Linked DNA regions of Homo sapiens: regions 2 and 3 are each reported to be linked to region 1. Evidence: microRNA targets listed by miRTarBase, many of them from high-throughput screens and not tested one by one. Region 1 holds a microRNA gene; each other region holds the end of a gene's coding sequence.

What was found. The annotated mature microRNA hsa-miR-567 reads AGUAUGUUCUUCCAGGACAGAAC and lies in region 1 at 1,679-1,701, shown strand. An mRNA with a match to its seed (bases 2 to 7 or 8) in the 3' UTR can be bound and repressed. Matches are read on the target gene's strand: a 7mer-m8 pairs with bases 2 to 8, a 7mer-A1 pairs with bases 2 to 7 and ends in A, and an 8mer does both.
Region 2: miRTarBase lists CSMD1 as a target of hsa-miR-567. Seed matches in the 3' UTR shown: 7mer-A1 at 347-353, 7mer-A1 at 191-197, 7mer-A1 at 187-193 and 7mer-A1 at 183-189.
Region 3: the mRNA of PAPSS2 is a reported target of hsa-miR-567. Seed matches in the 3' UTR shown: 7mer-A1 at 2,499-2,505.

What each region holds. Positions count from the first base shown.
Region 1 is chr3:112,111,138-112,114,339 of GRCh38, forward strand. It overlaps MIR567 (microRNA 567), which reads left to right and starts at 1,664; the gene lies at 1,664-1,761. It overlaps C3orf52 (chromosome 3 open reading frame 52), which reads left to right. Exons shown (of 6, transcript NM_024616.3): 5 at 1,827-2,008.
Region 2 is chr8:2,936,042-2,939,041 of GRCh38, forward strand. It overlaps CSMD1 (CUB and Sushi multiple domains 1), which reads right to left. Exons shown (of 70, transcript NM_033225.6): 70 at 1-2,703. The coding sequence ends at 2,544. All of the region lies in intron 6 of LOC105377785 (a long non-coding RNA gene), which reads left to right. Among named protein-coding and RNA genes, the nearest start is that of LINC03021, 210 kb to the left of the region's middle.
Region 3 is chr10:87,745,648-87,748,647 of GRCh38, reverse strand. It overlaps PAPSS2 (3'-phosphoadenosine 5'-phosphosulfate synthase 2), which reads right to left. Exons shown (of 13, transcript NM_001015880.2): 13 at 943-2,816. The coding sequence ends at 2,678. Among named protein-coding and RNA genes, the nearest start is that of ATAD1, 71 kb to the left of the region's middle.

The DNA of each region.
Region 1 (3,202 bases):
GTCGCAGGTTGCAGTGAGCTGAGATCGCACCATTGCACTCCAGCCTGTGACACAGAGAGACTCAAACAAGACAAAACAAAACAGACCCAGTGTACATGGTACTTACGGTGACATCTCTGCACTTTATTTCAAGAAGTCCAGGCAGAGGTCCTAAAGTATTGAATTGAGGAAGAAAAGCCATTGCTTCCCAAAGGGTGCTGCTGCACATGGGTGGGAGGCGGCTAAATCCCTGGCACATGCATTTGTGTCTACAGGGGCATTGTGACCTCAGCCCTGGACTGGCCCAGCTAGAACCTGGAAAAATGCCCTTTGGTTTATTAGCTGCTAGACTCACTCCAGTGGTGGGCAGCTGGGCGAAAGGCCCTGAAAGTTGCTCTTTTCTCAAAATTCAGCCTCATGTAAATTTACCCTGTGACCTGCCATGGGGGATTAGGATGGGCTGGCCAGGCCAGGCTAGGTGGCCTGATTTTCCCATTCAGCTTCTGACCTGGTCTTCTGAAAGTCAGACTCTGGCCCTCTTCATTAGCCAGCCCAAGTCCTTGCCCCTGGGAATGCAGGGTGGCTGGCTGTGTAGGTGTTGATCATCATTAGCGATAATTAGAGGGCAGAGCTCAGGGAACAAGTTATGACACCTGCAAACTAGGTTAGCTGGATTGCAGTTTGAAAGTGCATTTTTTGGCCCTCCTTTAGTGGCATCCTTGAAACTATGAGTTTCTTCAGAGTCCTGACTCTCCATTATTCATTTGATCTGCAGGATCTGGCACATCTCCCAGCCGTAGTAGAGTTTATAAGCTCAATTGTCAGCCACCTTGTAAGATCGAAGAGTATCGGCCTATGTGACCTGTAGCCAGAAGAGGGAGCTCTTTGCCTATCCTTAGCAGGGGCAGTGGCCTGATTCACACTAATGGGACTGGTGCATCTGCAAAACTTCCCCAAGGTGATAGTCTCAGATGTGGCCTCCTGCTCATTATTTTATTGCTGGTTCTTAATCTGGCCCATCTTAAACCAAAGTAATAGGATAACTATGAATAAACTAAATGTTGAAGTAGCATTTAAAGAGTAGCATTAGACACTAATTAATGGAGGGTAGCCCTTGATTATTTTTATTTTGGAAATGGGAAAAAATGTTCTAGGAAGATGAAAATTCCCTTTCCTTAGGTCCCATTACTGAGAGTTACAGGGCTTGGTTATCTTGCCCTAGGGGCCTCTGGAAATGGGACAGAAAAGTTTCTCACTTTGGGGACAAACCAGGGAAGCCTGATTTGTTGCTGATACACAGGGTGGTCTCTGTCAACGTTCAGAAGTTCTGGACCCAGCCAATGGTAGGAAACTTTGGCTGTGCCTTAAACATTTTCATAGGTCAAATAAAGAATTGGTTAAACTAAATATCCCTGGCACACCTTTGTGGGGGCAATGCTGAGAACATGAAGAAGGAATGTGTGTGGAGAAAAGGGGAGGCTTCCCTGGCTTGCCTTAAGGGATGAAGGCTGGGGTTGGGACAGATGGTGGGTCAAGCCTGGGATCTTCTCAGCATCTTGACTGGAGATGGGCACCTCTACCTCTACCTCTGATGGCCTCTCCCAGTGGATTCCTAGAGGATAGGTACTAGGTGGAAGGAGGAGGTTAGGATCACCTCAACTTTTTGTGATGAATCTATGGAAGAGGATTCTTATAGGACAGTATGTTCTTCCAGGACAGAACATTCTTTGCTATTTTGTACTGGAAGAACATGCAAAACTAAAAAAAAAAAAAGTTATTGCTTAAATTCATTTCTTGAGTTGCAGTATGATGCTGTTTATGTTTTAATGTCTTCCATTGCCTTTCAGTGGTGAAAATGCCACAGTAACGTATGACCTGCAATTTGGGGTTCCATCAGATGATGAAAATTTTATGAAGTATATGATGAGTGAGGAGTTGGTGCTGGGCATTTTGCTACAGGATTTCCGTGATCAGAATATACCTGGTTGTGAGAGTCTGGGGCTTGATCCAACATCCCTCTTGCTCTATGGTAAGTAGAGCAAGTAAAGAAGTCAGAGTTGTGACAATAAACAGGTGAACCAGATTGGGGTCAAATTGGCTTGGTTCGATTTGGCAACTGTGGTGACTTGGTACTGTGTCAGACTATTCATTTATTCACTCATCCCCTCAGCAGATGGTGTTGCTGTGAGGTGATGTTCCCCTCTCTGTGGAGGCTACACAGTCCGTGCCCTCCATAATTAGACAGTGTAGTTGGGGAGCAATTATGGAAAAGATAATTCAACTATAAAGATGAACATTGCTACATGTTTCCTCATGCAGTTCACCCACATTCTAAGCCCTGTATCCTACTTTACAACATGATTAGCAACCTTTATGGAGATACTGTGGTTTCACAAGAGAAGTAAGAATTGAAGAATTGGAAATAAATGATACAGCTAAATTGCTGAAAGAGTATCTCAATATGGGGAACCTATTTCTTTTTCTGTTGAAGGCCACTGAGACCATTAAGAAATTAATAGAGGGGTATACAAAGACAAGTTTATTCCTTTCCTTAGAAAATTATGACAAATTTACTTGTCAACTTTTAAAATTAAGAACAGAACAAGGAAATAGATATGTTCTTTAATAAATGTAACAAACACCCCATTTATCAGAATCTGAGAACTTTTGACACTCAGAACAAAACCTGACAGAAAGGAAGGTCAGAAGGCCAAATGGCTTCAAGCCCTCAAAATATCCTTCCATTGCTTTGTAGTGAAGCTCTGGCCTTTGCTGCTGATCTCACTTTCTGATACCTCGCTCGGAGGCTTGTTTGCTCTTATTTAGCCCCTAATGCCAACAATCTTGAATATTTTATGTTCTCATCCACAGTCCATCAGAATCACTTTCTCCACATGAGTAGGTTCTCAGTAAATACTAGTTGAATGAATGAAAGGCAAATTAGAAGTAGTTGTGGTTGGCAGCAGGTGCATTAACGGTCTAGAATCAGAAGCATGGAACAGGGGGTTAAAAGCACAAGTGTTAGTGCATAGTACAAGACAAGGTGTTTATTATGATGATGACACTGTTTCTTGAGGATGAGAGGCAAGAGTAATGTTGGCCTAAGAAGGCAGAACGTTATGTAAAACAGTTCTTAAGAATGCCATTCAGAAGGCCAAATTTTAGCTCACTGGAAGTCTCATAAATGGAGATCTTCCTCACAGAGCATCCTGAATAAAGTGTG
Region 2 (3,000 bases), not on the chromosome of region 1:
CACCTTGCGGAGACGCCGTTCAACACTGCACACAACCTTAGGAAGAAACTAGGCAGAATTCTCACACGAGAATTTCACTGATTTTTTTTTTCATTTAAATAACATGCTTCAAACTGGCAACCCTAGGACAGTTTGACTTTGCACACAAAGGAAAATCATATCTAATTTGATATGTGGTTTCTTGTATGTATGTATGTCCTGTCATTTCAGGATTTCATAGCATCGTTGACCAGGGAGCAGGTCAGGGATATGGGAACAGAGATGTTAATTCAGACTCTGAAGTCAGCATTTTGCACCTAGTTTGAATGACTCAAACTTAGATATGTACAATATATATATATATATATGTATGTATATATATACACTAATATGTATAGTAACCCTGTTCTCCCTTGCACACGAGCCTCCTCACACTTTCAATCATCTTCTGTTTCGTTCAATGTGTGTGTTAGGAGCACGACTCCCGCTGACCTCGTCCCGTCTACTGTGAAACAGCAATGTAAGGATTCCCACTGGCAAAGCAAATCTCCAAGGATGTGGGCAGGTTGGCCAGGGAAAACTGTGCAGAGAATTCAGCATAATGATACAGAATCCAACAGCGTGGGGTTCACAAGACAAAGGAGTCCCTAGGAGAGGCCAGTGAGTCCCCAAACAGCAGAGACCCTTTCGACCGAGGAACACAACACTGGGAGCCGAGCTCTACGGAAATGTCCGAATCAAAACGCGTGACTCTCCAAAGAATGCCCCATTTTCCTGACTGCTTTTCCTTTTCCACATTTGAAGTCCTACATGGAAACCTTCAGTACACCAACAGATAAATCAGTCTTAAAGCTAGGTGTCAATGTGTTCACTCCGACAACGTGAAGGCCAATTTGAACATTCTGACATTTCTATTACCAACGCCAATCTAAAATGTGAAACAGAGAAAATCTGCCACAATTGAATAGGAACTGAAATATCAAATAATAAAATAAGTACTATCGTTTCAAAAATATTTTTATCAAATAAGTATAAGTAAAAGTAAACATGATTTTCACTTTGAATTTGTTACATAAACTACCTCACGGCCACATCTTCTACTTCATGTTTTGATTTTTATTTGCCCTGGGGATCTTATAGATTTTATTTGCATCATAACTTATCATTTACCTATAATGGAATTTAAACTTGAAAAGTCACTGAAATTACCTTTCCATCTGGAATCATAAAGCATGAAACAAATAACAAATGAATGTATAAAATATATCATTGTGAGAGGAGAGTGTGTGTACTTTTTCCTTCCCTCTAAAAGAACACTTGGTATTTTGATCCTGAACAATTTTCACTGAGTTCAAGGTGCTACTGTGGTATATTGTCTTTCAATGCAATATCAAAGATCGATGGCACAGTAAAAGACAAAAAAAAAAAAAAACAAAAAAAAAACACTGCAAAAGGGAAGGCTGCATTGTGAGCTAAAACCCACAAGTTCATCGACTATCTAAAATAAATTACTATTCACAGTTTTACATGGCAAACAGAAATTTCTGCAAACCCCCTGCTATTAAGTAGTATCAGAGAGACAGTAATTGGATGAGGATGGTACTAAAGGAGGAAAACGTGTGAAATAAGGAGGCTTCTGTTTTTTTCTCATTGGACCTCTTCAATGAATTCAACACGTAAATGGAGCTAATTGAAGCAATAATAAAATAAATCTCTTCAATACTGTATTTCCTTTTAAAATCTGTGCCATATCTAGGAATACTTTTCCCTAACACTCCAACTAAGCTGATGGGGGAATGTTTAGCTTGATAATATGAAATAATGCTTATATACAATGGATAGTGTGTATAAACCCTGTGTAAATAATTTATTTTTTTTATCAGAATCTTAGTCATTCATAACACACTAGTGCAAAAAATTGTGCATTAAACATTCTGCGACAGAACAGCTGACTGGGAAATTGCAAACATCCCTAGAGATGAACACACAGGGGAGCTGTGAGGTCCTCAAAGCTTGTCAGGTCTCGGAAGGACAGAGTGAAGCATTTGTAGGTGTGAGCCTCTATCAGAAAGGTGTCTTCTTCCAGAAAGCTTTTTATTTTTTTCAGAGTATTCGTGTTCATGGGGGTTTAAAAAGGAAAAACAACACAAGAGAACACATATCGTGGTGCCACCATTCTGTCACCGCACCTGAGGGACATATCCACGAGCCCAGACGATTGCATTGAAAGGCATCTCAGCAACACAGAAATATGAAAGTCTGAGGCATTGAGTATGACGTGTTGGCGCGACGTGGCAGTCTTCCTGGAGTGTGCCTTGATTTCATACAGATGCAGCCAGGCATTTAGAACCCACTTTTGGAATGAAAACGCATGTGTAGTTTGATCCGTAGAAGACCCTGACACATTTGAGTAGAGATCCCCGCTGCACTTATGCCAGTAGACAAGGTTGAAGATCGCTGCAGTAAAGCCAGAGTGGAAGGGAGAGTGGTATATGGCACCAAAGGAATCACTGCTTGTCCATCAGAGGTATGGCTATGAATCAGTCCTGTTGGGGCACTGAGGGCTATACCACTGTACAGACTGTGTTCAGAGTTGTGTCAAACCTCACAGCCTTGGCTTCTGTGGGTTTTAAGTTTGTATCATACATGGGGTTTTCAAACGATGCTTGTCCATTGCTGTTTTCATGCCCAGCATAGCCATTGTATTGAACTTTTGGTCTCGTTCTAAGGAAAACAGAAAACAAATCATTAGAATCCTGGTTTCATTTGCAGATTTAGCAGCTGGGACTGTGTGCAGGAGACAACGTCTACAGAGCAGGGAGCAGTATAGCCAGGACGTTTGCAAAGAAGGAAGGCATCCACACCTGCACACCTGTCAGTTTATTTGCTTAAATTGGTGATTGGGAGTATAAAATGGGTTTTAAAAAGTGAATCGATTTCAAAAATTAAATAAAATTTTTTTGAGACAGGGTCTCACTCTGTTACCCAGGCTGGAGTGCAGTGGCACGACCACCACTCATT
Region 3 (3,000 bases), not on the chromosome of region 1:
TGCTGTACCTATTGATCTGTCCTCTATGTTCCCTCCCCTCACCACCCCGCAACAGGCCCCGGTGTGTGATGTTCTTCTCTGTGTGTCCATGTGTTCTTATTGTTCACCTCCCACTTACTAGTGAGAATATGCAGTGTTTGGTTTTCTGTTCCTATGTTAGTTTTTTGAAGGTGATGGCTTCCAGCTTCATCCACGTCCCTGGAAAGGACATGATCTCATTCCTTTTTGTGGCTGCATAGTATTCCATGGTGCATATGTACTACATTTTCTTTATCCAGTCTATCATTGATGGGCATTTGGGTTGGTTCCATGTCTTTGCTATTGTAAACAGTGCTGCAATAAACGTGTACATGTGTCATTATAGCAGAATGATTTATATTTCTTTGGGTATGTACCCAGTAATGAATCCCAGCTACTCTTGCTTGAACCCAGGAGGCAGAGGTTGCAGTGAGCCAAGATTGCACCACTGCAGGCAAAAAAAAAAAAAAAAGAAAAACAAGAAAAAAGGCAGGGTGCAGTGAGCTTGTAATCCTAGCACTTTGGGAGGCCGAGGCAGGTGGATCACAAGGTCAGGAGTTCAAGAACAGCCTGGCCAACATGGTGAAACCCCATCTCTACTAAAAATACAAAAATTAGCCTTGCGTGCTGGTGCATGCCTGTAATCCCAGCCACTCAGGAGGCTGAGGCAGGCGAATCACTTGAATCCAGGAGGTGGAGGTTGCAGTGAGCCGAGATCGTGCCACAGCACTCCAGCCTGGGTGACAGAGCAAGACTTCGTCTTTAAAAAAATAAAAAATAAAAAAGACATGAATAAGGGTAAATAATCTCAGTTATGATGTTCAAGAGAGTTGCTGCTGTCTCACTCCAATTATACAAAGTCACAAAGCCCTTAAGTTGTGTGGTCAACCCACACCCAATGGTACAGGCAGAAAAAACTCAGCCTTCACTCTGATAAATTTATTAAAATAAGAACAAGCATCAGTTGTACATAGAAATAATCATTTGCACTAAGCATGGTACTAGAGCAGAAGAGCAGTTTTAAATGTATTTTTTAAGTCACAAAATATATCGGTTAAGGCACTATAATCCTGTCTCATGTTTTCAATAAATATGCTGGTTTTTTTTTTTAAAGGCAGTAGTGAGTAACCGATTACATGAGTATAGGCACTATACTATTAAAGACAAACTGCTGTGGCCATTGTGTGTAACTTATTCTCAAAAGAACTTTTGTTAGTTAAGATTAGTGTTTTTTAAGAATGAGAATATGAAAATTGTCACAGTTTTCTCTTTCTAATTTAGGTCTCTTCCAGAGAGACCTATATATTAAAAGGTGCTGTTTCTTCACTTTATTCCTTGGCAACAATGAATTATGCATAAAGTAAAAACATTGCCTCTCAGGAAGTAAAGCCATCAGAAGATGTCTCAGAACAGCTTGAAATCTTTGGAATAGCTTTTTTTTTTTTTCAACTGCAATAAAATCAGTGCAGTTCAGAAAACTCGACCTTTCAGTATCCGAGAAGGCAGCTTTGTAAGCACTTTCTGTTCGAGGAACTTTGTTAAGCAGCTGAGGGGAATCTGACCCAGCTCCTGTGTTGTCTGGTGTAGACAGGGCACCAGACTGGGAGTCAAGTGGCCTGGGTGCTTCTTCACTGCCACCAGCACTTCCTAATAATGGCAAATTTACATTTTGTTACGGTGCTCACAGCTTACAAAACACATACATGTGCATCATCACAGTTTGTTCACCTGTAAGATGAAAGGGTTGGATTCTTTGTTTTCTGTGGTCTTTTCCAGTTCTAGTGCCTTGCTAGTCTGATAGTGTGAATTATTTTTTATTACAGCTGGCGCTGCTGCTGCATCAGGGCCATCCTTTCTGCAAGACACAATGACCACAGCAAAGAGCGGGAAAGATAACTTTCCACGACATCGCCACATTGTTTGACGTCCTTTCATCAAATCACTGTATGCTATTAAAAGTCACCGTGTAACTGGAGTTACATTATTCACAGAGGCCATTAAGACTTCTCTTATTAGACAATATAACTTTTGTGACAGAAATAGGCTGCACAGATCTCTAAGATAAAATTCACGTTATTGCACATTTTGTTTCTCCAGTCAGGTCTTCAACACGTAAGATATGATTACAACATTAAGGCTTTGTACAGCATGAGGTAAAATATCAGGAAGAATCTTGATGTGAGCCACACCTCTTTTAGAGTGAGAAAAAAAAATTTTTTTTTTTGTCAATTGTACAGAAGAGGACACAATCTGATATATTTTACAACTGATAAATGACATTGGAAGAGTACAGGTTGTCAAGACATGCTGGAAAATATATTCACTTTTCAGCAAGTAACTAGACACATGGTCAAACAAAGCCTTAAGAAATCTGGGACCTGCCTGCTCAGGTGCAGTAGAAAATACATAGAGCTAATTTTATTATGAAATGTATAAGAATATTGCTTTTACCTGCTAAGATTTGGTCTTCAGTTTGACTTTGTATGTATATGTGTGTGTGTATATATATATATTTTTTTTTAATTATAGACACAACTTTTACTTCATTATAAAAGATTAAAATGCATCATTGAGAAGCAATTTAATACAAAGCATCTAATCATAAAAATAGAAAAGGTAATCAAAGAGCACTTCAGAAAGAAACTCTGGAGCCAAAGGCTTAGTTCTTCTCCAGGGACCTGTAATAATCTGTCAGGACCTTCCATGCTTTGGGGGCCATGAAGCCATCTGGGGGATTCTCTCCTTCCCGGGCGAGCTTCCTCATTCGAGTTCCTGAGATGAAGTCAAACTCATTGTGCCTGTTACAGGGTGGCAACAAAGAACTCAGTGTAGGTAAATGATATCTGCCTTAAGGATTCCTGGAGTAGGTTATGGTTTTTGAGACCCATGTTCTTTCTGTAAAATGCTGCATCTTCAAAAGTGGGCAGTCCTCTAAATCTTCAGGAACTTGCAGAAGAGAAGGGAAATAATGGCAGCTATCCA